Linked DNA regions of Homo sapiens. The protein of the gene in region 1 purifies or fractionates together with the protein of each later gene. This does not show direct contact. Each region holds a gene or a part of one and is shown in the gene's direction. Other genes may lie near its edges. The genes, in order: AIRE, SDR9C7, MCM6, TMPRSS13, GM2A, SMC1A and GCN1.

The links.
Region 2: the proteins of AIRE (region 1) and SDR9C7 purify together in Homo sapiens (affinity purification with mass spectrometry; 2 studies listed by BioGRID and IntAct, with this or other methods). This does not show direct contact.
Region 3: the proteins of AIRE (region 1) and MCM6 purify together in Homo sapiens (affinity purification with mass spectrometry, with the first as the bait; one study listed by BioGRID). This does not show direct contact.
Region 4: the proteins of AIRE (region 1) and TMPRSS13 purify together in Homo sapiens (affinity purification with mass spectrometry, with the first as the bait; one large-scale study listed by BioGRID). This does not show direct contact.
Region 5: the proteins of AIRE (region 1) and GM2A purify together in Homo sapiens (affinity purification with mass spectrometry; 2 studies listed by BioGRID and IntAct, with this or other methods). This does not show direct contact.
Region 6: the proteins of AIRE (region 1) and SMC1A purify together in Homo sapiens (affinity purification with western blotting; one study listed by BioGRID). This does not show direct contact.
Region 7: the proteins of AIRE (region 1) and GCN1 purify together in Homo sapiens (affinity purification with mass spectrometry, with the first as the bait; one study listed by BioGRID). This does not show direct contact.

What each region holds. Positions count from the first base shown.
Region 1 is NC_000021.9:44,284,556-44,288,675, forward strand, and holds the start of AIRE (autoimmune regulator), read left to right. Parts: upstream 1-1,320; 5' UTR 1,321-1,451; coding exon 1,452-1,583; intron 1,584-2,001; coding exon 2,002-2,176; intron 2,177-2,422; coding exon 2,423-2,578; intron 2,579-2,961; coding exon 2,962-3,036; intron 3,037-3,789; coding exon 3,790-3,903; intron 3,904-4,120. UniProt on the Homo sapiens protein: Transcription factor playing an essential role to promote self-tolerance in the thymus by regulating the expression of a wide array of self-antigens that have the commonality of being tissue-restricted in their expression pattern in the periphery, called tissue restricted antigens (TRA).
Region 2 is NC_000012.12:56,927,909-56,931,408, reverse strand, and holds part of SDR9C7 (short-chain dehydrogenase/reductase family 9C member 7), read left to right. Parts: intron 1-924; coding exon 925-1,183; intron 1,184-1,855; coding exon 1,856-2,019; intron 2,020-3,500. UniProt on the Homo sapiens protein: Plays a crucial role in the formation of the epidermal permeability barrier.
Region 3 is NC_000002.12:135,848,944-135,852,443, reverse strand, and holds part of MCM6 (DNA replication licensing factor MCM6), read left to right. Parts: intron 1-880; coding exon 881-1,042; intron 1,043-3,500. UniProt on the Homo sapiens protein: Acts as a component of the MCM2-7 complex (MCM complex) which is the replicative helicase essential for 'once per cell cycle' DNA replication initiation and elongation in eukaryotic cells.
Region 4 is NC_000011.10:117,922,903-117,926,402, reverse strand, and holds part of TMPRSS13 (transmembrane protease serine 13), read left to right. Parts: intron 1-3,500. UniProt on the Homo sapiens protein: Serine protease. Cleaves the proform of PRSS8/prostasin to form the active protein. Cleaves the proform of HGF to form the active protein which promotes MAPK signaling.
Region 5 is NC_000005.10:151,259,685-151,263,184, forward strand, and holds part of GM2A (ganglioside GM2 activator isoform 1 precursor), read left to right. Parts: intron 1-70; coding exon 71-232; intron 233-3,500.
Region 6 is NC_000023.11:53,398,655-53,402,154, reverse strand, and holds part of SMC1A (structural maintenance of chromosomes protein 1A), read left to right. Parts: intron 1-2,424; coding exon 2,425-2,566; intron 2,567-3,500. UniProt on the Homo sapiens protein: Involved in chromosome cohesion during cell cycle and in DNA repair. Central component of cohesin complex. The cohesin complex is required for the cohesion of sister chromatids after DNA replication.
Region 7 is NC_000012.12:120,132,216-120,135,715, reverse strand, and holds part of GCN1 (stalled ribosome sensor GCN1), read left to right. Parts: intron 1-989; coding exon 990-1,183; intron 1,184-1,310; coding exon 1,311-1,425; intron 1,426-3,500. UniProt on the Homo sapiens protein: Ribosome collision sensor that plays a key role in the RNF14-RNF25 translation quality control pathway, a pathway that takes place when a ribosome has stalled during translation, and which promotes ubiquitination and degradation of translation factors on stalled ribosomes.

The sequences.
Region 1 (4,120 bases):
AGAGGAGAGGTGTCTGCCGCTCTCCATCCTGGACTCTGGCTGCCCAAAAGCAAACGGCACGCCTGCCCACGTGGGAATCTTGGTGGCGTCTCTCACTGCATCAGTTAGCCCCCAGCCCAGTGCTGCCTGGATTCAGGCTTCCTGGTACCTTCGTCCACCCTTCAGCCCTAATCCATGCTGGCCAGGTCATCTCGTTCTCTGGCTCAGTGGGAACACTCGTGCCCAGAGACCTCTCGTGGTTCTCTGCAGCCTGCACACAGGGCCTGCTTCCCTGGCTTGACCGCACAGACAAGGGGACTGTTACCAAGGCCTCCCACTGAGGCCACCCCCCCTCCAGGCCATGCCTGCGGGGCCACCACAGCCTCAGCATCATTGCAGGCCCCAGGCCTCTGCACCTGGTCTTGTTTTACTGGGGGCACTGTCCCCACTCACGTCCACCTGGGACCCTCGGCTCCTGTCCACTGCAGCTCCCCTCCCGGACACCTTCCCAGATGCCCCCGGAAGCTCCTGTCCAGGCCACAGCATCCCTCAGCCTCTGTCACTGGTCCTAGGAAGACCCTTTGGGAGCTCTCACTCAGGGCCACACTCAGGACCCCCGTTGTGGGGCTGGCCGCCTTCCTTCTAAAGCACCTGGAGGAAGGAAGGAGGGGGTCAATGCGAGCCTCAATCCCCAGGCGAGTGTGCCCCTTTTAAAGATGAGGGAACCGAGGCTCAGAGAAGGAAAGGACTTGCCTGGCGTCACACAGCTAGCCTAAGATGGTGAGGTCAGGAGCTCCCTGGCAACACCCAGGCTGCCGTACCGTCTCCTGCATCAGACTGAGCCTCCATCGGGCTCCTCCCACAGCCCCAGGCGGGCCCCTGAGTAGGGGCTCTCAGCTTGTGTGGAGGTCCCCCAGGAACACCACCCCGATCCAGCCTCCATGGAGGCTCTTGCCGGCCACTGGGAGGGGCCGGTGCACCCTGGGCAGCCCCTGCCAGGGCCCTGAGACCCGAGCCTCCCCGCCGAGGGCACCTGTCTCGGCTTTGCCCCATTCGAGCAGGGCCCTCGCCGAGGCAGGACAGGGCCACATTCGGAAGTGAGAGTTCTCTGAGTCCCGCACAGAGCGAGTCTCTGTCCCCAGCCCCCAAGGCAGCTGCCCTGGTGGGTGAGTCAGGCCAGGCCCGGAGACTTCCCGAGAGCGAGGGAGGGACAGCAGCGCCTCCATCACAGGGAAGTGTCCCTGCGGGAGGCCCTGGCCCTGATTGGGCGCCGGGGCGGAGCGGCCTTTGCTCTTTGCGTGGTCGCGGGGGTATAACAGCGGCGCGCGTGGCTCGCAGACCGGGGAGACGGGCGGGCGCACAGCCGGCGCGGAGGCCCCACAGCCCCGCCGGGACCCGAGGCCAAGCGAGGGGCTGCCAGTGTCCCGGGACCCACCGCGTCCGCCCCAGCCCCGGGTCCCCGCGCCCACCCCATGGCGACGGACGCGGCGCTACGCCGGCTTCTGAGGCTGCACCGCACGGAGATCGCGGTGGCCGTGGACAGCGCCTTCCCACTGCTGCACGCGCTGGCTGACCACGACGTGGTCCCCGAGGACAAGTTTCAGGTGGGCTCCCCGCCCGCCCCCCGCTGCCCCCAGGCCCTGTGAGCCAGGGATAGTCCCCGGGGAAGTTCCAGGAGGACCCCGCCCCTCCAGATCCCCAAGCCCCTCCAGCCTTCCCCAACTCCCTCCCCACAAGGAGCCAGGGGCGTCCCTGATGACAAGTTAGAAGTTGGTCCCCTTCCCCCAGCCGTCCCCACACCTCACCCCCAAGCCAAGGGAATGGCCTCCAGGTTCCCCCAGCCCCACCCTCAACACCCCTACACCACCACCTGACTCCACCACAAGCCGAGGAGATGGGCGTGGAGCTGTCCAGGTCGCCAGCGCCTCTGCCTGGGAGCTCCACCCTCTAGTCATGATGGAGATGGGCAGGCCGCAGGGTGTGGGGGACCATGGCAGGGACCCTCATGCCACCCCACTGCAGGAGACGCTTCATCTGAAGGAAAAGGAGGGCTGCCCCCAGGCCTTCCACGCCCTCCTGTCCTGGCTGCTGACCCAGGACTCCACAGCCATCCTGGACTTCTGGAGGGTGCTGTTCAAGGACTACAACCTGGAGCGCTATGGCCGGCTGCAGCCCATCCTGGACAGCTTCCCCAAAGGTGGGTCCTGGTGGACTCAGCCATGCTGGGGGCCTGGGGCAGCTGCTGTCACCTGCTCAGCCCAGCTGGACTGGAACCGGAGTGGTGTTTGAGGAGCCCGTGGGTGATGTTCCAGGACCGTCTTGGATCCTAAGAGGCAAAGGGGCCAGGCCTCACCTGTCTGGCCAAGGTGTCCAGTTCTGGGGCCCACCCTACCCCTGGAGAAAACCCTGAGGTTGGGACCCTGCTCCTGCCCCTGAGCTGCAGATGTGGACCTCAGCCAGCCCCGGAAGGGGAGGAAGCCCCCGGCCGTCCCCAAGGCTTTGGTACCGCCACCCAGACTCCCCACCAAGAGGAAGGCCTCAGAAGAGGCTCGAGCTGCCGCGCCAGCAGCCCTGACTCCAAGGGGCACCGCCAGCCCAGGTACCCTCCCTGCAGGGGAAGCCAGCCAGGGTCTCCAGTCTTCCCGGGCTTCCCCGGGAGCCCACGCCCCCTCCCCACCCGGGCTCCCACCCACTGGGTGTGGGGCCAGCCTGCCTGGGGCTGTGGGGGTCTCCTCTGGGTACTAGACCCACACACTGGACCAGCCTCTCAGCTCCCTCCTGCCTGAAGGCTGAGCTCCCCGGAGCTGGTGAAGTAGGCGGGCGGGTCTCATTTCCCTTTTACTGATGAGAAACCAGAGCCCGGCAAAGGGACTACCCAGCACTGGACCGCCCCCTCCACGCCCTCCCACCGCGGGCCCCTGCCCACCGGCACTCACCCCCACTGAGAGGGGAGGCCAGGCTGCCCCCAGCTCCCCCATTCAGGCTCTCAACTGAAGGCCAAGCCCCCCAAGAAGCCGGAGAGCAGCGCAGAGCAGCAGCGCCTTCCACTCGGGAACGGTGAGCGGGGCCCAGTGGGAGCGCCTCCCTTCTCCCTGGCCAGGGGCAAGGGGTCAGGGGTCAGAGCAGGGCCTGCCCTCTGAGACCCTGTCCTAGGGGCTGGGGACGTGCTGGCCTGGTGTGTCATTCCAAGGGCCTAAGCTGCACCACCAGACCCAGGAAGGGGACACCTTGGGTCTAAGCATGATCTTGCCAGTCGCCCCTGCCCCCACTGCACCCTGGTTCTGGGACCCCCTTCTCAGGCACCTTCTCTGCCCGTCCACTCCCTATCCTTCAGGACCAGCCTAGACATAGCTTCCTCCAGAAAATCATCCCTGGCCCCCAGCTGCATGCAGGCTGAACCCTTCCTGTCCCCTTCTCCTTCCTTCCCAGGGCACTGGACTCCAGAGACCCCCTATCTCCCTGAGGGCAGAGCCTAGGAACTCTGTGTCCCTCCCGGCACAATACAGGGCCCATGTCATGGGGGGGTGGGTCTGGTCATTGGTCATGCCTTCCTATCCATTGTGCCAGCTCTGCTGACACTGCCACCCCCCAGCACACGCACACTTGGGTGCACACACGAACACACACATTCTCATGTCTCTGCACTTACCTGTGGGCTGTCTGCACATGGCAGGGCTGGGTCCCCTCCTTGGCCTGCCCTGGCTGGAAGGAAAGGGCTCTGCAGCCCAGTGCTGCCTGCTTCTGGCATAGAGTATGTGCTTGGGAACAGTCTTCCCCACGGGTGACCCCAATGGGTGTTCCCTTTCCCAGGGATTCAGACCATGTCAGCTTCAGTCCAGAGAGCTGTGGCCATGTCCTCCGGGGACGTCCCGGGAGCCCGAGGGGCCGTGGAGGGGATCCTCATCCAGCAGGTGTTTGAGTCAGGTAGACGCTGTGGCGGGGAGATGGGGCTGATGGGGAGACCCAGGCTCCAAGATGGAAGGAGGACCACGCCCCTTTGCATCCTGGTGGTCCCACAGCAGACCGGACTGTTGCTCAGGTAGCCAGAGTTTCTGCCTGTGGTTCTGCTGACTTTGGAGGAGGAGGGTGAGCACTGAAGTCTCCCTGTCGGGGGACCTTCTGCAAGGCCAGCGGTCCAGGC
Region 2 (3,500 bases), on another chromosome or scaffold:
TTTATTTAAATATTTTATATATTTATTTATAAATATTATTATTTCCTTCTAGGCTTGTGAGTTCCTTGAGGGATAAGATGCTGTGTTGTTCATTTTATGTCTCCTTTGCCCTGTATTTTACTTTATTTTATTTTATATCGTTTTATTTCATTTTATTTTTAGAGACAGAGTCTCACTCTGTCACCCAGGCTGGAGTGCAATGGCACCATTATAGCTCACTGTAACCTCGAACAAGGTAACCTGTAACCCGGGCTCAAGTGATTCTCCCACCTCAGCCTCCCAAGTAGCTAGAACTACAGGCACATACCACCACGCCTGACTAATTTTTTTTCTTTTTTTGTAGAGACAGGGGTCTTACTCTGTTGCTCAGGCTGGTCTCAAACTCCTGGCCTCAAGTGATCCTCCCACCTCAGCCTCTCAAAGGGTTGTGATTACAAGTGTGAGTCACTGCACCTGGCCTCCTTCACCCTGTAATTGTCACAGACTAGATAAATGCATGAATAAATGTGTGAAGATGAATGAATGAATGGATTGATTTTGGTAGTATGTGAAATGCAGTTGGTTATACTTAAGTGAATAGAGAGGGAGAAGTATGATGGGGAAGGGATCTAAACATTAATTCATTGGTATGAAAATGAAACTCTTATCCCAAAGCTGATAGCTGAAATGCTGTCACCTAACACCTCGATTGTAGCTAGTACAGAGCGCCAGCTAGCCGGCAGACTTTATGTGAATCAGGAAAAAGTGTCCCTTCAGGGAAAACGAGTTAGTAAAAGACACACCTTCCTTTTATGTTATAGCCTGACCGAGTTATGTCTTGTGCACCTGCTCAACCATCCTTGAGGGCACTGAGCCGGTGGGGAGCAGAACTTGGTTCTTTCCCAGGCCCACTGATGATTTCTGTGTGGTTCATCTCACCCCCAGGCCTCTGGGCCCTGGTGAACAATGCTGGTGTGGGCCTGCCCAGTGGTCCCAACGAATGGCTGACCAAGGATGACTTTGTGAAGGTGATTAATGTGAACCTGGTGGGACTGATCGAAGTGACCCTTCACATGCTGCCCATGGTCAAGAGAGCCCGGGGCAGGGTTGTCAACATGTCCAGCTCTGGTGGTCGTGTGGCTGTCATTGGTGGTGGCTACTGCGTCTCCAAGTTTGGCGTTGAGGCCTTCTCTGACAGCATAAGGTAACTGGGCCCTGGTACTGAACAATTCTGGGTGAAAATCCCAGAGATTAGAGAGGGTTGGGAGTGACAGCATGTGGGCAGGGGAATTCCGCAGACAGGAAGCTAACACAATAGCAGAAGGAAGGTTAGACCTCAAGGTGCTTTCTCCAAGGACCAAGAGCAGGGATGAGGAGAAGAGGTAGGGTGGAAATACAAGGCATCAGGTGGGCCTTCCCTTGAGCGGCACCAGGGTGAGTGAAACCCTGTTTGGGCCTGTGAGAGGAGGGAGAGTCCCCCAAACAGACAGACAGGCCTGGAGGCACAGGTCCCCTCTGGGAGGTCCTTAGAGGAGCGTGCAGGCCTTGTGTATATCCACACCATTCACCGTGTGGGTGTTGAGTGAGGGGTTGCTAATGGGAGGGACCTGGTGGGAGGCAAGGCTTTGGCCTAGATTCTCTATTGACTTCTTCCCGCTGGTTGTGCCTAATGCAAATTGCCCAGAGACTGTTGGGCCAGTTTTGGAAAGGGCTGAGTCCCTAAGGAAGGGCTTATTTGCACAAAGGCAATGCCAGGGCCAAGTACAGGGGTGAGAGAAGCATCTCTAGGTTCCTGAAAGACCAGCCCATCCAGAGGTGACTCTCCGTGATGATTGTCATCTTGGGGCCCAGACTGACTGCAACTCTTCTTTCCCAGGCGTGAGCTCTACTACTTTGGGGTGAAAGTCTGCATCATTGAGCCAGGGAACTATCGGACAGCCATTCTCGGCAAGGAGAACCTGGAGTCACGCATGCGAAAGCTTTGGGAGAGGCTGCCTCAGGAGACCCGGGACAGCTACGGAGAGGATTATTTCCGCATCTGTAAGTTCCTGGGGCAGGAGAGGGGTCTCTGAGGGGGGCGAGTGGGTCTTGGGGTCATTAGCTGGCTTTCCGTTTACAGATGGTGAGACAAAATGCAGAGGAGTTCAGGACCCAAGGTCACATAGTGGCACAGCTGGGGTTTGAGAATAGAGAGCAAGTGGCAGAATCATCACTTCTGGAGCAGCCCGGGGAGTTAAGGGCAATTCAGCCCACTCCTGGCACCTGCCCCCACAGCATCATGATGCAGGGGAATCAGGTGAAAATGCACTGAGATAAATACAGCAAAGAGATCAAGGGCATGGCTGCTGGAGCCGGACTGCCTGGGTTCAAATCCTGGCTCTACTACTTACCAGCTAGGAGACTTTGGACCTATTACCTAGTTTTCCCATGCCTCAGTTTTCTTATTTACAAAATGGAGCTAAAGATAGTGCCTCCCTCATGGGGTTGTTATGAGGGTTAGTATGTGTGAAGTACTTTGCACATTCTGAGTGCTTGTTAATAAAGAAGAAAATGAGCACATGGGGATTTAAAAGGGAGGGTCTCTAGGCAACTCTCTTTCTTTCCCTGAGCTGAGGGTCTCCTGTGAATCATAGGTGTTTTTGGAGGGTAGAGGTGGGACACGGCAGCTGTTTACCCTGCTGCCCCAAAACTTTCTGCCACGAAAGTTGTCTGCTGGATGTCGTACGTCAACAGAGCACAAAGCCAAGTCAGCCATTTTTTTCACTTAATACATACACACTTTATTGCATTTTTGTTTTTTGTTTTTGTTTTGAATCAGTAATACAAAGCATGCAAGGCTGCCATGTCCCAAGCCTGTGTGGGGCTGGAGAGCTGGAGCGGACACAGCAGTATGCCTGCCCTTCACTGCCTGTAGCTTATGGCCCAGTAGGGGAGACAAACATAAATCAAAACACATGTGTTTATGGTAGATGTGGATAAGTGCTACAGAGGAGAAACAGGGTTGTGAAAGAAGAATGGAGCAGGAAGTTGCGGTCCCAATTCAGACTATGGTGAAGGGGAGAGCTTCTGAGTTGACTTTGAGGAGGAATAAGAGTTAGGTGTTGCTGGGAAGGGGAAAGAGGGGATGCGTAGGGACTTTTTTTCTGCAGGAAGGCTCTGAGGCAGAAAACTCCATTTGAGGAACTTTAAAGAAACCAGCAGGTGGGAAGCAATGGGAGGTAGCTGGGGTATACGGAATAAATTAGAGCATCAAAGCACACTGAGGATTAAGGGGTGAGGGAGAGGAAGCTATCAAGGGTGAGTGTTAGCTTTACAGCTTGAAGAACATGGTGAATGGAGGTGTCTTCATTCATTGATTTAGGGAAGTCTCAGGGAAAAATGTTTGGAGTACTCCTTAGATAAATTCATCTTTTAGTGCTAGACATGTTAGGATTCTGTGAGAAGAAAATGTCTAAGGATTTACACTAGTTGGGACTTACTCAGTGACAGAAGATCCAATGCAAATTATTTAAGCAGAAAAG
Region 3 (3,500 bases), on another chromosome or scaffold:
TCTTTGAAGGAAACATTGGATTCATCTAGGCCATTATGATAAATATAAATTACTGTTTTACAGTGATTGATGCATTGTATTGGACTAACTCTGTTCTGGACCCAGGATTCTTACCTGGACATAAACCCCCAAATGCTTGGCATTTTCCCAAAATAGGGTATGAAAAGGAAAAAAAATACTCATTCTGGTTGAGATTTTCACACTGTTGGCTAACTTGACTTCTGGAAGGTGTTACTAGGTATTGATCATTTATCATCTTCACTTGATTATTCATGAGATTGCAGTTGGCTCTCACTGTCCCAAAGAAATTTAATCATTTAAAACTAAGGATTATGGGTGATTCTTGTGTAAAAAAGAGCATCTGTTCTCCATTACTGCATACTGATATACTGATCCCTCTGTAACCTTGGCATGCTTCCTTAATATGGTGAATTCCTTGCTCTGAAAAGCTGAGGATCCTTTAGATATAAAGTTTATTGAAACAGCTTTTTTTTCCCTGCAAAGAGTGTGAGTTAATTAATTGAGCCTCAAATACTGAGCATTAATTTATTTAATGAGCACTGACATCCTGAGGTGTAAAAGACATTACATCTTGTTCCATTGCTTCAGCTTGTTAAGCAGCTTTTAGAAATGGTCATTTGCTTAAATACTAAGCCTTTTTTCAGGTTCATAAAATTAGTAACATGGAATTCACAAGCCTCCTTAATATTAGTTTCTTTTGAAAGACATTACAATAGTAATTTATTGTCACTGGCTTCTCAAAGTTTCAACCCTCTCAGGTTCCCTAAATGTTTCCACCTGGAAGGCTCTTAAACTTAGGTTTACCGTAGCTCTCATCAAATAGAAATGTTTCTCTAACTTGAGTGATGATCTGAAACAGATTTCCAAAGAGTCAGAGGACTTCATTGTGGAGCAATATAAACATCTCCGCCAGAGAGATGGTTCTGGAGTGACCAAGTCTTCATGGAGGATTACAGTGCGACAGCTTGAGAGCATGATTCGTCTCTCTGAAGCTATGGCTCGGATGCACTGCTGTGATGAGGTATCAGAGTCACTTTGATATGATGAGAGCAGAGATAAACAGATTTGTTGCATGTTTTTAATCTTTGGTATGGGACATACTAGAATTCACTGCAAATACATTTTTATGTAACTGTTGAATGCTCATACGACCATGGAATTCTTCCCTTTAAAGAGCTTGGTAAGCATTTGAGTGTAGTTGTTAGACGGAGACGATCACGTCATAGTTTATAGAGTGCATAAAGACGTAAGTTACCATTTAATACCTTTCATTCAGGAAAAATGTACTTAGACCCTACAATGTACTAGTAGGCCTCTGCGCTGGCAATACAGATAAGATAATGTAGCCCCTGGCCTCAAAGGAACTCTCCTCCTTAGGTTGCATTTGTATAATGTTTGATTTTTAGATTGTTCTTTGAGCCCTGCATTCCACGAGGATAGGTCAGTGGGTATTAACGAGGTAAAAGGGGAGTAGTACGAAAGGGCATTCAAGCGTCCCATCTTCGCTTCAACCAAAGCAGCCCTGCGTTTTCCTAGTTTTATTAATAGGTTTGATGTAAGGTCGTCTTTGAAAAGGGGGTTTGGCTTTTTTTTACAGTGTGACTGAGGTATAATTTATAAAAAGGGAAATGTATGGCATGGTGAGTTTTTTCACATACATCCTTGTGAATACCCAGCTCAAGATCCAAAACATTTCCATAATTTCAGAAAGTTCCAAACCCCTGCCTCTTTTCAGTCTTAGCCCTCTTCCCCTGAAGTAACCACTGTTCCGACTTCAATCACTACTTTTATCCCACAGGTTAATTTTTTGGCTTTTTTCCACTAAATTTTCAAATTCTTTGATATGGTACTTTACTATTGACGAAGTACTTTCACACTAGGTTATTTAATATTCTTTGATTCACCCAATATTTAGGGAACACCTGTAGGGGACAAAAAATGAATGAGAGCCCCTGCCTTCCATTGCTGCTAATCTGGTGGGAACGAGACATGTATTTAATTAAGCATGTAAAAAATAGAGTGGGTGATGAAATAATCTATATACTAAATCCCCATGACACACAGTTTACCTATGTAACAAACCTGCATGTGTACCCCCGAACCTAAAATATAAGTTGGAAATTAAAAAAAAACGAGAGGGAGAATAGAGCATCACAACCAGAGTGCTGAGATGAATTACTTTATTACCAAAGAAGGAGGAGGACTCAGGGAGGTGCCGACGTTTAAACCCAGTCACTGAAGGGTGTGCAGAATTTGGATAGGCAAGATACCCTGGGACAAGGTCATTCTAAAACCATGCTAACATTTGTACTTTTTTTTTCATTGTGATAGTTCCTGAAATGAGTTGCATAAAACTGGTACATGTCTTAGGGCAGTCTCTAATTGATTTTTATTTTGTTCTATTTTTAAAAATTAGTCTTCAAATAGCAGATTCACATGATATTAAAATATATGCACATAAATTATATACACAAATATATTTTCTGAATGAAATTTAGTATCTGCATATATTTAAGAGCTATTTCTGTCTCATATGTTCATAATCTTCATCCATTAAAAAAACTTTTGTTAGGCCTTTCTCACTCTAAGATTATAAAAAATTCTCCCATTATTTACCTAGCTAGTTTTCTAGTTGTTCCAAAACCATTTATTGAACAATCCATCTTTTTGACACTGGTTTGGCATGCCTTAATTATATATTCTTGTGTGTGTTAGGATCTCCTTTTGGACTTTCCATTCTGTTCATTGAGTCTTATCAGCTCCTCTTACATTGGTACCATGATGTTTTAATCTATGGGGCTTTGTAGTTTAAATGTAGGGCTAGTTCCAGCGCATTGTTCTCTATCAGCTGTTAGGAACTTAGAAATCAGCTTGCTCTGTTTTAAAGAAAAACCTGGTATTTTTTTATCAGTATAACATTCTATTTATATTAACTTGAAGAATTGAAAACATCTATGATTTTTCCTATTCAGTAACGTATCACTTAGAATAGGTTAGGTTGTACTACTATAAAATCTCAGCTGCATAAAACAATTTTTTTTTGCTTGTGCTACACATCCATTAGGTCATCAAGGGACTCACCTTGTCAAGTTACTCAGAGATTCAGGCTGATATAAAGGTTTGATCTTGACATACGCTTTCATGATGACAGAAAGCAGGGAAGAGAAGGTGGTGAGCCATGTGCTTTCTCCCCCTTCTATCCAGAAATGACACATACTCACATTTCATTCGCCAGAGAAATTAACATGGCCCCTCCTAAGTTCAAATGGATAGAGAAATGCCTTCCTACCAGGTGCCCAGAATTAGAAGAGCAAACATTTGTGAACAGTTCTGAGTACCACAAATACCGTTATCTTTCCACTTAAGTCTTCTGTTTCACTCAGTAGTGCTTTAAACTTTTCTTCATATGTTTTTCAGTGTTTCTTGTTGAATTTCTTGATATTTTATCATGTTTGTTCGTACTGGGAGTAGCCTTTTTT
Region 4 (3,500 bases), on another chromosome or scaffold:
TGGGCAGTTCCTGAGATGGCTCACCCGCGGGTCAAGTCACTCTGCCATGCCGTGTCCCAGCCCCATCCCAGCCCCAGGCACCCCAAGGACCCTGGCACCTGCCCTATGCCCCTGCAGGTGTGTAGCCCTCACCTCGTCCTCCAAGGACCCTGGCACCTGCCCTATGCCTCTGCAGGTGTGCATCCCTCACCTCGTCCTCCAAGGACCCTGGCACCTGCCCTATGCCCCTGCAGGTGTGTAGCCCTCACCTCGTCCTCCAAGGACCCTGGCACCTGCCCTATGCCTCTGCAGGTGTGCATCCCTCACCTCGTCCTCCAAGGACCCTGGCACCTGCCCTATGCCCCTGCAGGTGTGCAGCCTTCACCTCGTCCTCCAAGGACCCTGGTACCTGCCCTGTGCCCCTGCAGGTGTGCAGCCCTCACCTTGTCCTCTGTTTCATGTTGTCATTGGTGAGGAGCAGACTTCCTTTGGCACAGCCACCTCGATTTCCCCTGCATTGTCCCCTGAGACTTGGCAGATGTGAGCGTAAGCGTGCGGGAGTGTGTGTATTGGGCCCTGGGCTGGGGAGCTGGGTGGGAAGGACAACTGATGTAACAATGGCCACTTAGCTTAAGTGTCTTGTTTTGGCAGAACAGATTCCTCTTGGTATAGCAACAACAAGGGTGGATGTGCCTGGCCAAGTGGGCAGGGCACTGGTGGTGCAGGCATGAGGGAAGCCACCACAGGGAACCCTGGCTTTAGCCGTCAAGTGGAGGCCTTGACAGCACCAGATGGGGGTTGGTTTCCCTAGGAGGGAAGCAATACCCAAAACTTTAGAGGGGCCCCCATTATGTACCAGCCCTGAGTGTGTCACTACCCTAGGACTGGCAGCAAGAGAAGGCACAGACACAGGGAAACATTGAGGCAGCAAGTTCCTGGGCAATCAAACATTATTTGCTGGGCAATAGTGGGCACTCCATGTTCTTTACAGCATTTGATAAATGAATGAATGAATGAGTGAATGAACGAATGAATGAACAAGGAGGCGTCTTGATTCTGGTCTAACAGGGATTCCTTGAGCTTTTTCATGTGCACAGGAGGCATCGGAAACTAGAAGGGACTTCAGCACTTACTCTGGCCAGTCCCTTTCAAGTTCGTTGTAGCAGCTGCCTCTTTTGTTCAAATGAATGTTATGTTGACTCCGCTGTATGAAACTGAAAGGTCGGTCTTCTCTGTTGAGGTGGGGTAAGGGCTCAGAGCCCACCACAGTCCCCACCAGCTGGTCTGCAAGGCACCTCCACGGAAACTGAAATGCTCTGTGGAACCCTGTTTGAAAACTGCTGATTGTCCAACACCCTTAATTTATTGAAGAGGGAGCTGAGGCCCAGAGAAGGATGTGACTGTCCCCAAGGTCACACGGCGGCCTAGGAGCAGAAGCGAGGCTCCCCGTGCCCCCCACCCCCAGGGCGAGGCAGACCCTGCAGCTCTGGCCCCTTCCAGAGTTCAGTCTGCCTCAAGGGCTGACCCAAGTCCCTGAGCTGTATACTGCGTGTGTGCTGGAGATGCTGGTGCTGGGTGAGGAGGTGGTGGGGAAGATGCCTGTGTGCTGAGGAGAGCCTGTATTTGTGGGGTTTCTCTGGGTTCGGGGAGGGGGAGAGTAGGAAAGGGCCTTGGGAACCTGGAGGTACAGTGAAGCCTGGGTCTAGCCGTGAGAAAGGGAAAAAAGTCACCCAGTCCAGCCGGGCCCTCGCTGGGAAGGGTTCAGGCCTCCCCTGCCACAACCCCAGGGCTCCCCAGGTTCCCAACAGGCAAGGAGGGTTTTTAGGCTCTGTCAAAGGGAGATCCTGATCTTTCTCAGTGCCGCCAGTGCTTCCAGAAGGGTTTAGTGAGGGGTTTTTCTTCCTGCCTAGCCCAGAGTGCTGGGTTGTTGGCCCATGGTCTGCCCGTGCCCACCCTATGGGCGCCCTTGATGCCCAGGGTCACTGGAAAAGGGACGCTGCCACGGGGGCCTCTGTCTGGGAAGGGTCCTTTCTCATGGAGGCTGGTAAGGGACAGAGAGGGGAAGAGCAGAGTGTTGTGTAACAGCCCAAGGATGGGGGCCAGAAGATCATGGTTCTAGAATTGGCACCGTCCCCACCTGGCTGTGTGTCCGTGAGCAAGTCACACAGCCTTTCTGGGCCTTCATCGCCTCAACAATAGTATAAAGGGCTTGGGTAGGTTTTCTTTTCTTTTCTTTTCTTTTCTTTGAGATGGGGTCTTGCTATGTTGCCTAGGTTGGTCTTCAGCTTCTGGCCTCAAGCCATTTTCCCACCTCAGCCTCCCAAGTAGCTGGGACTACAGGCCGGCGCCACCACGCCCAGCTTAGAGGGTTTTCAGAATCTTTGCAACTCTGACAGCCTGTGATATGCCCAACCCTGGGTGGTAGCTTTACGAAGGGATGGCCCAGGGCTGAGGAGGGAGGCCCAATTGGCTTAAACTGGACTGAAACGGGCCCTGATGCACCCGCCCTCAGGCCATGAAGCAGCTACTGCTCCCTGCTGGACATTCTTCAGGACTAGAAGGAGAGCTTTTTTTTTTTTTTTTTTAATTATTATACTTTAAGTTCTAGGGTACATGTGCACAACGTGCAGGTTTGTTACATATGTATACATGTGCCGTGTTGGTGTGCTGCACCCATTAACTCGTCCTTTACATTAGGTATTTCTCCTAATGCTATCCCTCCCCCGTCTCCCCACTCCCCGACAGGCCCTGGTGTGTGATGTTCCCCATCCTGTGTCCAAGTGTTCTCATTGTTCAATTGCGGGAGAGCTTTTTATAGGGTGGTTCACACTGCAAGCCCAGGCTCTGGGGGACCTGAAGTGCATATTTCCCAAGTTCAGGCTGCTGCTTATGGCTGAAGAACTCTCATTATGCAGAGCCTGGGGCTCGATCCACAGCAGCAGCTCCATAACCACTGAGATGAAGCAACCATGAGCCCACATCACTCAGGCCCCCTCTCTCACTGGCTGGGCCCCCAGAAGGTCCAGGAGAGGACAAGAGCTGGACATACTCAGGGGCTGGCTAACTTACTACCATCCCCACCAGGTAACGGCCCAAGGGGCAGAGTCTGCAACTGGAAACCAGAAAAACATCCCATTCGCCTCAGGGGGGATCTAACCCTGGGAGCTGTGGTGTCGAGACCCCTGGGCTGGAAGTGGGGGGCCTTGGGTTTAGTCCCTCCTCTGCTGTGAGATGGGCCTGAACAACTTTGGGCAAAGCACACAAATGTTTTGGGCCTCTACCTCTCAGTCTGTAAAGTGGGAGTAAAAATGCTTATAGACTTCTGTCCAGGGACAGGCTTTGGAAAGACTCCCAGAGCCAGGGGCTGCTCCTTTTAGCCCTCCCTGGCTTGTCCCTTACCGCTTTCCTGCGGACCCCTGCCCTGCCTTCCTGCCCCAACACGTCTGGAGGGCCCTGAACAAGCCTTGGGTGAGGACCCTTGGGAGCTGCAGAGGCATAGCCAGGTGGTAGCAGTGACAGCC
Region 5 (3,500 bases), on another chromosome or scaffold:
TGTGATCTGTGATAGTTTCTTTTGTCAACCTTTTTCTTCTTCTCCTTCCTTGCTGCCTGATTGTCCCCAGCCATCCCAGCTCAGTAGCTTTTCCTGGGATAACTGTGATGAAGGGAAGGACCCTGCGGTGATCAGAAGCCTGACTCTGGAGCCTGACCCCATCATCGTTCCTGGAAATGTGACCCTCAGTGTCATGGGCAGCACCAGTGTCCCCCTGAGTTCTCCTCTGAAGGTGAGCCTGGGGGTGGGTGGAGAAGGGGAGGTGCGAGGGTCTGGCCAGCAGGGGTACTGGGGCATGTATGCTTGGGGAACTGTGAAGAATTTCAGAATCCTGGATTCCCAGAGAATAGTACAGGACATGTAGATTCAGACACTCTTTCACAGGTTCATGGAATCTCAGGATCATAAGATTGAAAGGAATCTCTGATGTCAGCGCCAGCAACTTCCTGGTGAGGGCAGGAGTGACGGATACCTTGCACCTGGCAGAAGCGTCCTGGCCTTCTCTGGGCCTGGTGGCCAACTGCTCATTATTGTCTGACAGCTCTGGTTGGCCAATTTGGTTTTGTTGTTAATTATAAAATTGATATACCAATTAGCCAGTAATATATAGTCACTTTAGAAAACACAAGTGGTCAAAAAATAAATAAAATAGGCCAGGTGTGGTGGCTCATGCCTGTAATCCCAACACTTTGGGAGGCTGAGGTGGGTGGATCTTTTGAGGTCAGGAGTTTGAGACCAGCCTGGCCAACATAGTGAAACCCCATCTCTACTAAAAGTACAAAAATTAGCTGGGCGTGGTGGCATGTGCCTGTAATCCTAGCTACTCAGGAGGCTGAGGTAGGAGAATTGCTGGAACCCAAGAGGCAGAGGTTGCAGAAAGCCAGGATCGCACCACTGCACTCCAGCCTGGGTGACAGAGTGAAACTCTGTCCCAAAATAAATAAATAAATAAAATAAATCACTTGAAATCTCACTACCTAGTGATAAGGGATAAGCACTTTTAACATCTTATAGGATATTCTTTGCAACTTTCCCCCATACAATTACATACATAACACACATATTTATTTTTAATGGATATGTATGATAATAGGCAGTGCTCATTGTAAATGTCCTCCAGTAATCTAAATCCTAGAGATAGTCAGTGTTTGCTCTTTATATATCCCATCAGAATTTTTATGTGTTTGTAAATATATACACACTTATACTCATGGGATTATATGATATGTGCTATTATACTTGCTATTTTTTTTGCCTCATACTATATGTCCATATCTTTCCAAGGATTAGGTGGCTCTACTTATTCAATTTTTTTTTATCCAATCATTATTTTATTATTTTAATGTATTGTAATTTTAGAGACAGTGTGTCACTCTGTTGCTCAGGCTGGAGTGCAGTAGTGTGATCATGGCTTACTGCAGCCTTGACCTCCTGGGCTTAAGGGATCCTCCCACCTCAGCCTCCTGAGTAGCTGGGACCACAGGTTCATGTCACCATGCTTACCTAATTTTTTTATTTTTTATGGAGACGGAGCCTCCCTGTGTTGCCCAGGCTGGTCTCAAACTCCTGAGTTCAAGCAATCCTCCTGCCTCAGACTCTCAAAATGTTGGGATTATAGGCGTGAGCCACCTTGCTCAGCCCACCCAATCATTTTTAATGGCAGAAATATTCTGATGTGGATCTTTCATAATTTATATAACAAGTCTATTGTTGAACATTTAGTTTGTTTCCAGGGTAGTTTTTATTTGTTTGTTTGTTTATTTGTTTGTTTTGAGACAGGTTCTTACTCTGTTGCCTAGGCTGGAGTGCAGTAGCGCAATCTCAGCTCCCTGCAACCTCCACTTCCCGGGTTCAAGCGATTCTCCTGTCTCAGCCTCCCAAAGTGCTGGGATTACAGGCACCTGCCATTGCGCCCCACTAATTTTTGTATTTTTAGTAGAGATGGGGTTTCACCATGTTGGCCAGGCTGGTCTTGAACTCCTGACCTCAGGCAATGTGCCTGCCTCGGCCTCCCAAAGTGCTGGGATTACAGACACCTGCCACCATGCCCAGCTACTTTTTGTATTTTTAGTAGAGATGGGGTTTCACCATGTTATCCAGGCTGGTCTTGAACTCCTGACCTCAGGCAATCCACCTGCCTCAGCCTCCCAAAGTGCTGGGATTATAGGCTTGAGCCACTGTACCTGGCCAGAGGGTTTTTTTTGTTTGTTTGTTTTTTGTTTTGCTGTAGTAACCACCTTTGTAGAAATTATTCTTATAGTACATCTTTTTATAATTTTCTGATTCTCTAGATACACACTTTTTAGGTCTTTTGATACATTTTGCCAAAGTGCCTCCCAATGTTTGAATAAACCTGCATCATTCCTAGTGAGCGTAGATGTCTATTCATAAGTTTATTTGCCTTTTGTATTTACTTTGGGAATAACCTGTTTGTTTCCATCCATTGACTATTTTAGGGGTGTATGTTTTTATATTTTCTTAGAAAACAATGAAGACTTTTCATATATCCATTGCAACACCATTTAATATGGTCCTTTCCTCTCTAGCTAAAATTGCTACCTTTATATGATGCTCCTCTATGCCCTTCAGTCTGTTCCTGATCCAGATCTATTCTAGTACCAGTTTTGTGTTAATTATTTAGAAGATTCCTGATTTGGATTCTGTGTTTCTATCATTATCCTTAGACCTGTCTTAATCACAGCTCCTACGTTATGGGCTTTCCTTGAGCAATACCTGAGTTAGAAAATCATGTGGAAAGTGCTTTGCACAGGGCCTGGCACCCAGGACATGCTCAGTACATTTTATATCTTGTGAACATTTCGATTAGTATCTGTCTTATCCTGCAGTCTCTTGACCCAGACACAAGTCCTGGATATGTGGCAGCTTTCAGCTCCCCTGCACCTCCTACCAAGCCTTTTCCTAGCAGAGTCATTGTGTTTCCATTACTGTTCCTCAAGTGATAGGGGGTCAAGCCCTGTACCCTTGGATCTGGGCCAAGGGATGGAATCATTCCCTATGTATGGACACTGGACTGTTTCTCTGCCAGGGTCACACACATTTATTTGTGTGCTCCCTCTGCTGATCTGGAGTGTGGGCTCTCCTGGTAGGCCGTCCGCCATGCTCCCTCTGCTGCCATCACCATGCAGCCACTGGTGTTTCCAGGGAGGGGGCTATGCAGCTGACTTGGAAACAAGAAGCTGGCAAACCCGCTCTTCTGCCCTCAGCCTGCTTTTCCTGGCTTCTTCACAAACCATTAAGATGGGTTTTACTCCCTATTCTCCTTTTCCATTGCTTTATTACCTTTCATAAATTTGGGCCTACATAATCTCCTCTGTCTTTACTGTCACTTGTGCTTAGGAAAAATTAGCCTCAGATCCCCTCTGCTCCTTCTTTTTCCCCAATTTCTTTTTTTTTTTTTTTTTTTTTGAGATGGAGTTTCACTCTGTTGCCTAGACTGGAGTGTAGTCGCGCGATCATGGCTCATTGCAACCTCTGCCTCC
Region 6 (3,500 bases), on another chromosome or scaffold:
GGATATAGAATTGAATCAGACTGTATTTCTTTCCTCAGGAAACATATAGAGTACTGGGGGAAACATCAATTTGAGGACAGTGTGATCAATGGTGTAATTAAGGTAGATACAAAATACTGAAGAAATTTTCAAGGAACTGCAAATCAACAACAGGAAAAATAAAAAACAATGACAAGAAACCCAATGGAAATGTGGCTAAGTACTTATGATACCCAATGCAATGAAAAAAGTAAAAAAAAAAAAAGTGGCAAATAATATAGATAGGCTTTCATGGAAAGAGAAGTTCAAGTGGCTAATGACCATAGGAATTGAGGTCTAACCTCTTAATCAGAGAAATGCAAATTTAAAAGTCTGACAGTATTAGGTGGAAATCTATAGATGTCCTGTGTAGTATGTGAAAAAAATATATGTGTATATATATAATGTATATATATACACATATATAAAACCTATGGGTATATATCCCTGAGAGAGTCTTGCCATAGGGTCCCAAAGAGATACACATTCAGTGTCATTCATCTTGGCATAACTTGTAGTAGTGGGACATTGGTGGCAATGTAGATGGCCATTACTGGGGGAGCATAAGTCAAATGAATATATAGACTGGAATACTGTGTGGGAGTTCACAGCAAGAACTAGATTTGTGGGCAGTAATGGATAACTTATAAACCTGGTATTGACCAGAAAAAAGAATAAAATTTATAACACAGTAGATTTGTGTAAATTTTAGAACTAAGACATTTTACAAGGATATGCATTTTTAAGGAATGCATGTGTGTATGTCACTTTGTGGTGCATGTTCACAGTAGGGAAGGTAATGGGAATGGAAATTGGGGATTGAAACAAAGAGGACAAGGGAAGGGTCTTGCCCAGGCAGTGGTGATAAGTGTGTTATGAACTGTGGGATATGATTAACTTGCTTCTGCACCTAAAGTCTAAAAAGGGAGGAACCCAACAAAGTGTAATAGAAACTAGGAACCTGCTCAGAACCGTCAGGAAAGGTTTTACAAAACAGGGAGTGATGACTGGAGACCTGAAGAGTGAGTAGGATTTAGCCAGCCAGGCAGCGACAGAAAAAGTGAATTCCAAGCAGAGAGAACAGCATGCTTGGAAGTGTGAGAGAGCATGCCTTGTTCTGGATACTAAGTAGTTTTTAATGTCTGGAGCATAAAAGCAGGGTCAGGAAGAAGGTGGGGAGTGGTGGAGAGGTCAGCAGGGGCCGGATCACAGAGGCCTTTGTGAGTCATACTTAGGAGATTGGATATAAAATTGCATAGCTCAAAATTATAGAGTTAGTTATATTTCATTTGGATTATAGTGGCTAATAGGTTTAAGCTGCTAGCATGACATCTGGCAACATCTGTCACACCATATTGGGAGTTGGAGAGGGCAATTGGAAGTTAGTCCTGCCTGGCCTGCCAGTGCCTGTGTATGCTGGTTGCATACTCTTGAGTTTCTGAAGAGATGGAGAGGAGGACAATAGCAGGAATCCAGTATTTTCTCCATGTTTTTGTACTATCCAAGTTCTGCCCTTTAAGAGGTTCTGGGACCTTGGGGCAGAAGTTGGGATGCTGTAGTTGAAGCCCTTGGACAAAAGTAAGCTGAGTACAGTCAATATACCTGGTGATAATGGTAACTAAAATTGATTGAGTAGTTATCGTGGACTCGGTGTGGTTCTAAGGACTTTATACATATTAACTCATTTAAAAATCTCCCAATAACCCTGAGGTAGGTACTATTATTATGTTCATTTTGCAGATGGGGAAACAGGTCTGGAGAGTATAACCAACTTGCCTGAATGACATTACTAGTAAGTGGCAGAGTTGAGATGCCAGTCTTCTTAATCCACTACATTATGTTGCAGTGGTGGTATACTAGAAAGAGCCCGGGTTTTGGTGTTAAATCTGGGTTTCAGTCTCACATGTGCCATTTACTAGCTGTGTGGCCTTGGGCAAGGTCTTTTACCTCTTGGCCTAAGTTTTCCTCATTTGTAAAATTAGGATAATAATGCCTACTTGCAGAGCTGTTGATTAGAGGATTAGAGATAATGTATGTAAAGTACATAGAAGCCTAATAGGAATTACCATAGCTGGTAGAATCAGATGGACTCTTTTATGCCTCCTTGTAGGAACTTGGAGGGCGCTGGGGTCTTCATTGTTTAAAGGGGGATAAATAAGGTTTGGCCGAATCTTCCCTGCCTTATGCCATGTCCACAGGGCTAGGCTGAGGAACTTAGTTCTTCAGCTTCAGGGGACCGTTTTATGTGCATATGGATGGATGAAGCAAGTTGTGACTGAAAATCAGTAACTCTGGGTCCCTGAGCCCTGGGTCTAGTTTCCCTTTCTTCCCATAGTTGGATTTTGTACATTGGTTATCTCTGGCTGATGAGATTATGAGTGATTCTCCCCCCACCTTTATACACAGTTTGGAGTTTGAGAATCAGAAGACTCGCTTGGGCATTCAGTTGGATTTTGAAAAGAACCAACTGAAGGAGGACCAAGATAAAGTACACATGTGGGAGCAGACAGTGAAAAAAGATGAAAATGAGATAGAAAAGCTCAAAAAGGTAAGGAAGGAAAGAATTAAAAGACAGACTAATAACTGGGAGGAAAAATGGGAAGAAATACGACAGACAGAAGGATAATGTCCACAACTTAGAAATTTCTCATCTAAATCAATAAGAAAAATACCAAGACCTAAACGGGAAAAATGGATAAATGTCACAAACAGTTCAAGAAGACTTTCAAATAGTCCCTAAACACATACAAATAATTTAGTCTTACTAAAGAAATGCAAATTAAAGCAACAATTAGATACAATGTATTTTGTAACACATCGTGGAAAATGTAAAAACAGAAGACACAATGCTCAATACCAGCCATGGTATAGGAGACCAGTATTCTTTTTTTCTTTTTTTGAGATGGAGTCTTGCTCTGTTGCCCAGGCTGGAGTGCAGTGGCACTATCTTAGCTCACTGCAACCTCCGCCTCCCGGGTTCATGCCATTCTCCTGCCTCAGCCTCCCAAGCAGCTGGGACTACAGGTGCCTGCCACCACGCCCAGCTAATTTTTGTATTTTTAGTAGAGACGGGGTTTCACCATATTGGCCAGGCTGGTCTCGAACTCCTGACCTCATGATCCACCTGCCTCGGCCTCCCAAAGTGCTGGGATTACAAGCATGAGCCACCGTGCCTGGCCAGGAGACGAGTATTCTTATGTAATGTGGCACCATCCTTCAAGAAGCTTCACAATGCATTTATACTCTGTAACTCAGTAGTACCTGAGGAGATCATCCAAAATGCTGGCAAAGCTTTATGCAAACACTTTGATGTTTATAACAAGCATTATTTATAGTTCCAAATTGGAAACTACTCAGTGCCCCTTGGAAAGTGGGAATTTAGCAAATCATGCTACGTTTGTAACATTATTTATGTAGTGTCTTCAAACTTTAGTAATACACAGACCCTTTTTAAAGGAAAAATAGTCCCTAAGATTGCCAGT
Region 7 (3,500 bases), on another chromosome or scaffold:
TTGGCACTGAACCTCCAAACAGTCACTCTGGTTTTCCTAATTAACAATAAGTAAGCCGGGCGTGGTGGCTCAAGCCTGTAATCCCAGCACTTTGGGAGGCCGAGGTGGGCAGATTACCTGAGGTCGGGAGTTCGAGACCAGCCTGACCAACATGGAGAAACCCTGTCTCTACTGAAAATACAAAATTAGCCGGGCATTGTGGCGGGTGCCTGTAATCCCAGCTACTCAGGAGGCTGAGGCAGGAGAATTGCTTAAACCCGGGAGGCGGAGGTTGCAGTGAGCTGAGATCGCGCCTTGCACTCCAGCCTGGGCAACAAGAGCGAAACTCCGTCTCAAAAAAAAAACAAAACAAAAAACAGTAAGTAAATCTTTACTCTTGGACCCACCTGTATTGTATCAAAAGTGTGCCTGTGTTTCTGTATAGTCAGGGGTTGAACTGGATTTTTAGTTAGGTGGGTACACATTTGTGCAGGGAGGATTCTCCAAGGTCATTTGTTTCACAGGCTTGTTCTGAGGGCTGAATGTGGAGTGCGTATCCTGCTGTCAGTTGCTCAGTAGATGGGCTCTGCAATTATACACTGAGTCCCTTTCCCTGTCTTGGCATTAGAACTGTGCTTCAGTACTGCCGATAGTCTGCCCTGCTTGTTAATGTATTCAGAGGAGGATTTGAGTCACTTATCGATATGGACAGGTCTCCACTAAGCCAAACCCCAACGCAGCCAAGGCTGCGAGACAGCTCCCTCAGATAGCGGCCGCCGCCTCCTCGGCCTCCTGCTCCTCCAGTGTATCAAAGCATGCTGGATATGACCAGGAGGCCAAGCGAAACCTGTCTGTGTTTGGCCTCTCTGACGGGCTATCTGTCCCCAGCCCTGTATGAGAGCTGGACTCGCTGTGGTGGTTTGGGATTGTCATTTGTTCTCATGCCTGTGGTACACTGTGGCTTTGGGTCTACCACAACTGTCTTTCATGGATGTGGGTTCCTCCCACAGGTTGGGATTGCCCTGAAGCCCTTCCTGCCCCAGCTGCAGACCACTTTCACCAAAGCCCTGCAGGACTCCAACCGGGGGGTGCGCCTGAAGGCCGCAGATGCTCTGGGGAAGCTCATTTCCATCCACATTAAGGTGGACCCCCTCTTCACAGAGCTGCTCAATGGCATCCGCGCCATGGAGGACCCAGGTGTCAGGTACGGCGCTGGCAAGGGAGCACTGTGGCCTCCAGGAGGCCAGGGGTTGCTGTGGGCCGAGCCTGCGCTGGCAGGAGGGGTGGTGGTGGAGGCACCCAGGGCTTAAGGCGGTGCATTGCTTCTGCAGGGACACCATGCTGCAGGCCCTGAGGTTTGTGATTCAGGGAGCAGGGGCCAAAGTGGATGCCGTCATCCGGAAAAACATCGTCTCACTCCTGCTGAGCATGCTGGGACACGATGAGGTACGGCTGCAGGCAGGACTAGTGGCAGCACTGGACCACTGGTTTCCCTCCTCCTCCTTAGGTTGAGTTCTTCACTTTGTGTTAGAACCAGTACAGCTCAGTAGTAATAAGCATTCCTGACATTTCTATCACCCTGTATGCTTCACCAACATTTCCTCGGGTTTCAAGGGAAACGGGGCAGGTATTGTGGATATATTGGTTATTTCCGTTTGTTTGTTTGTTTTTTGGCTGAGTCTTGCTGTGTCACCCAGGCCGGAGTGAAGTGGCACAATCTCGGCTCACTGCAGCCTCCGCCTCCTATCAAGCGATTCTCCTGCCTCGGTCTCCCGAGTAGCTGGGATTACAGGTGTCCGCCACCATACCCAGCTAATACTTGTACTTTTAGTAGAGATAGGGTTTCACCATGTTGGTCAGTCTGGTCTCAAACTCCTGACCTCAGGTGATCCACCCGCCTCGGGCTCCGAAAGTGCTGGGATTAACAGGCATGAGCCACCGCGCCCGGCCGGTTATTTCTATTTTATAGATGAGGCAAGTAAGCTTTGTAGAGACCCAGACCTCTCACCTATTTGCTCTCTGATCTTAAAGAAGTCACTTTCTCTGTCTGCCTCTCATTTCCACTTTTGTAAAATGAAGAGGTTTATTTATTGTTTTGTGAAACATTTGCCGAGCTAAAGGGCCTATCCCAGAGGTGCATAGACCTCGTGGTCACAGACCTCAAGAAACTTAGTGTGTAGTGGGATAAATGGTCTCCAGGGTGTGTCCCGGTGGCAAGTCTTAGAGGTCTATTTTCGAGGGTGAGACTTGTCTGGGCCATACCCAGCAAGTAGTAGAGTCCAAACCAGAAGCCCTGGACTCCTGGTTCTGTCCCAGTTCCATCAGCCTCACCTAGTCTGGAAGCATCTGTCAAATATTTGGCTGCGAGCACTGTGGGGCCAGTAGGGAGTTGAGTCTATGGAGAAGAGTTTTCTGTTCCCTTTTCAGACAGCCCTCTGTTGTGGTCTAATTTACTTTGTAGGGCCAATCTAGGAGGAGAGGGCCTTTGGGCTCACATGGTTTTACACGTCATTGACACACACACACACCCACACACACTCCTCCTGCCCACACCTGCAACACACACACTTGCTGCTGCACTTCCCATGGCTCCAAAGGCCTAGTTCTGGTCCCCAGGCGCCAGCTGTCGGACTCCAGCCCCAGCCTTCTCTGTGGGGACAGACAGGAAAGTCTGCTGTCTTGGTCACAGTCTTTCAGGGCTTCTACAGAGTCATGTGTACAGTGCAAGCAAAAGTTAGTATTGAAACATATTTGCATTTTACCACAGTGCAGCTTAAAATAGATGAAGTTGGAGAGAGTCGGTGTCAGAGCCAGCTTTAGCTTGGCACCTGGGCTTCTGCTTCGAGCTCAGAGGCCCAAACTGCTGGCAGTCCATTCTCTTACCCTCTGAACCTCCACTCAGATTGAAGGTGGCAGTTCAGGGTGCCAGCCTGGCATTAGCTTTTTGGGTTATTGAGTCCCTGGTTGGTGGTTTGTTTTGGGGACATGTTGAGTTGGCACCTGTAATAAGGAACATAACTTAAAATCCTCTCTTGGTATTCCATAGTTAGCTGGCCAGGGAGGAGCACGGAGCCGCTCGCGTACCTGGCTCTGATTTGAACAGGAAGTGCTTGCCTTTCCTTATCTTCCTTGGCTTGATTAGTGGCTTTAGTTTGACTTCCTAGGATGAACCCAAGTAATTTCGGTGGCAGTGGGGCACTCATGCAGTAGGGAGATAGCAGGAGTCATTCTGGCCACAAGATGACACAAACTCTGTGGGAGAAAGGAGCTCAGAGTGGCCGTCTCTAGCCGGCTTCCCTGGTGGCTGGGGGCAGGTGCCTCCCCTCCTGCCCCTCCCGCCCCTCCCTGCCTCACAGGGCTGTTGATAGTAATTGAGATAATAAATATGAAACATTCAGCCTTCCTAAGAAGAAAGATGCTATGTAAATACAGTTATTACTGCTATTACAAGGATGATTACCATATGCATACACACTGGGGTTTTCTATAATTAAGTGAAGTGCTGGCTGTGTAATGTTTAA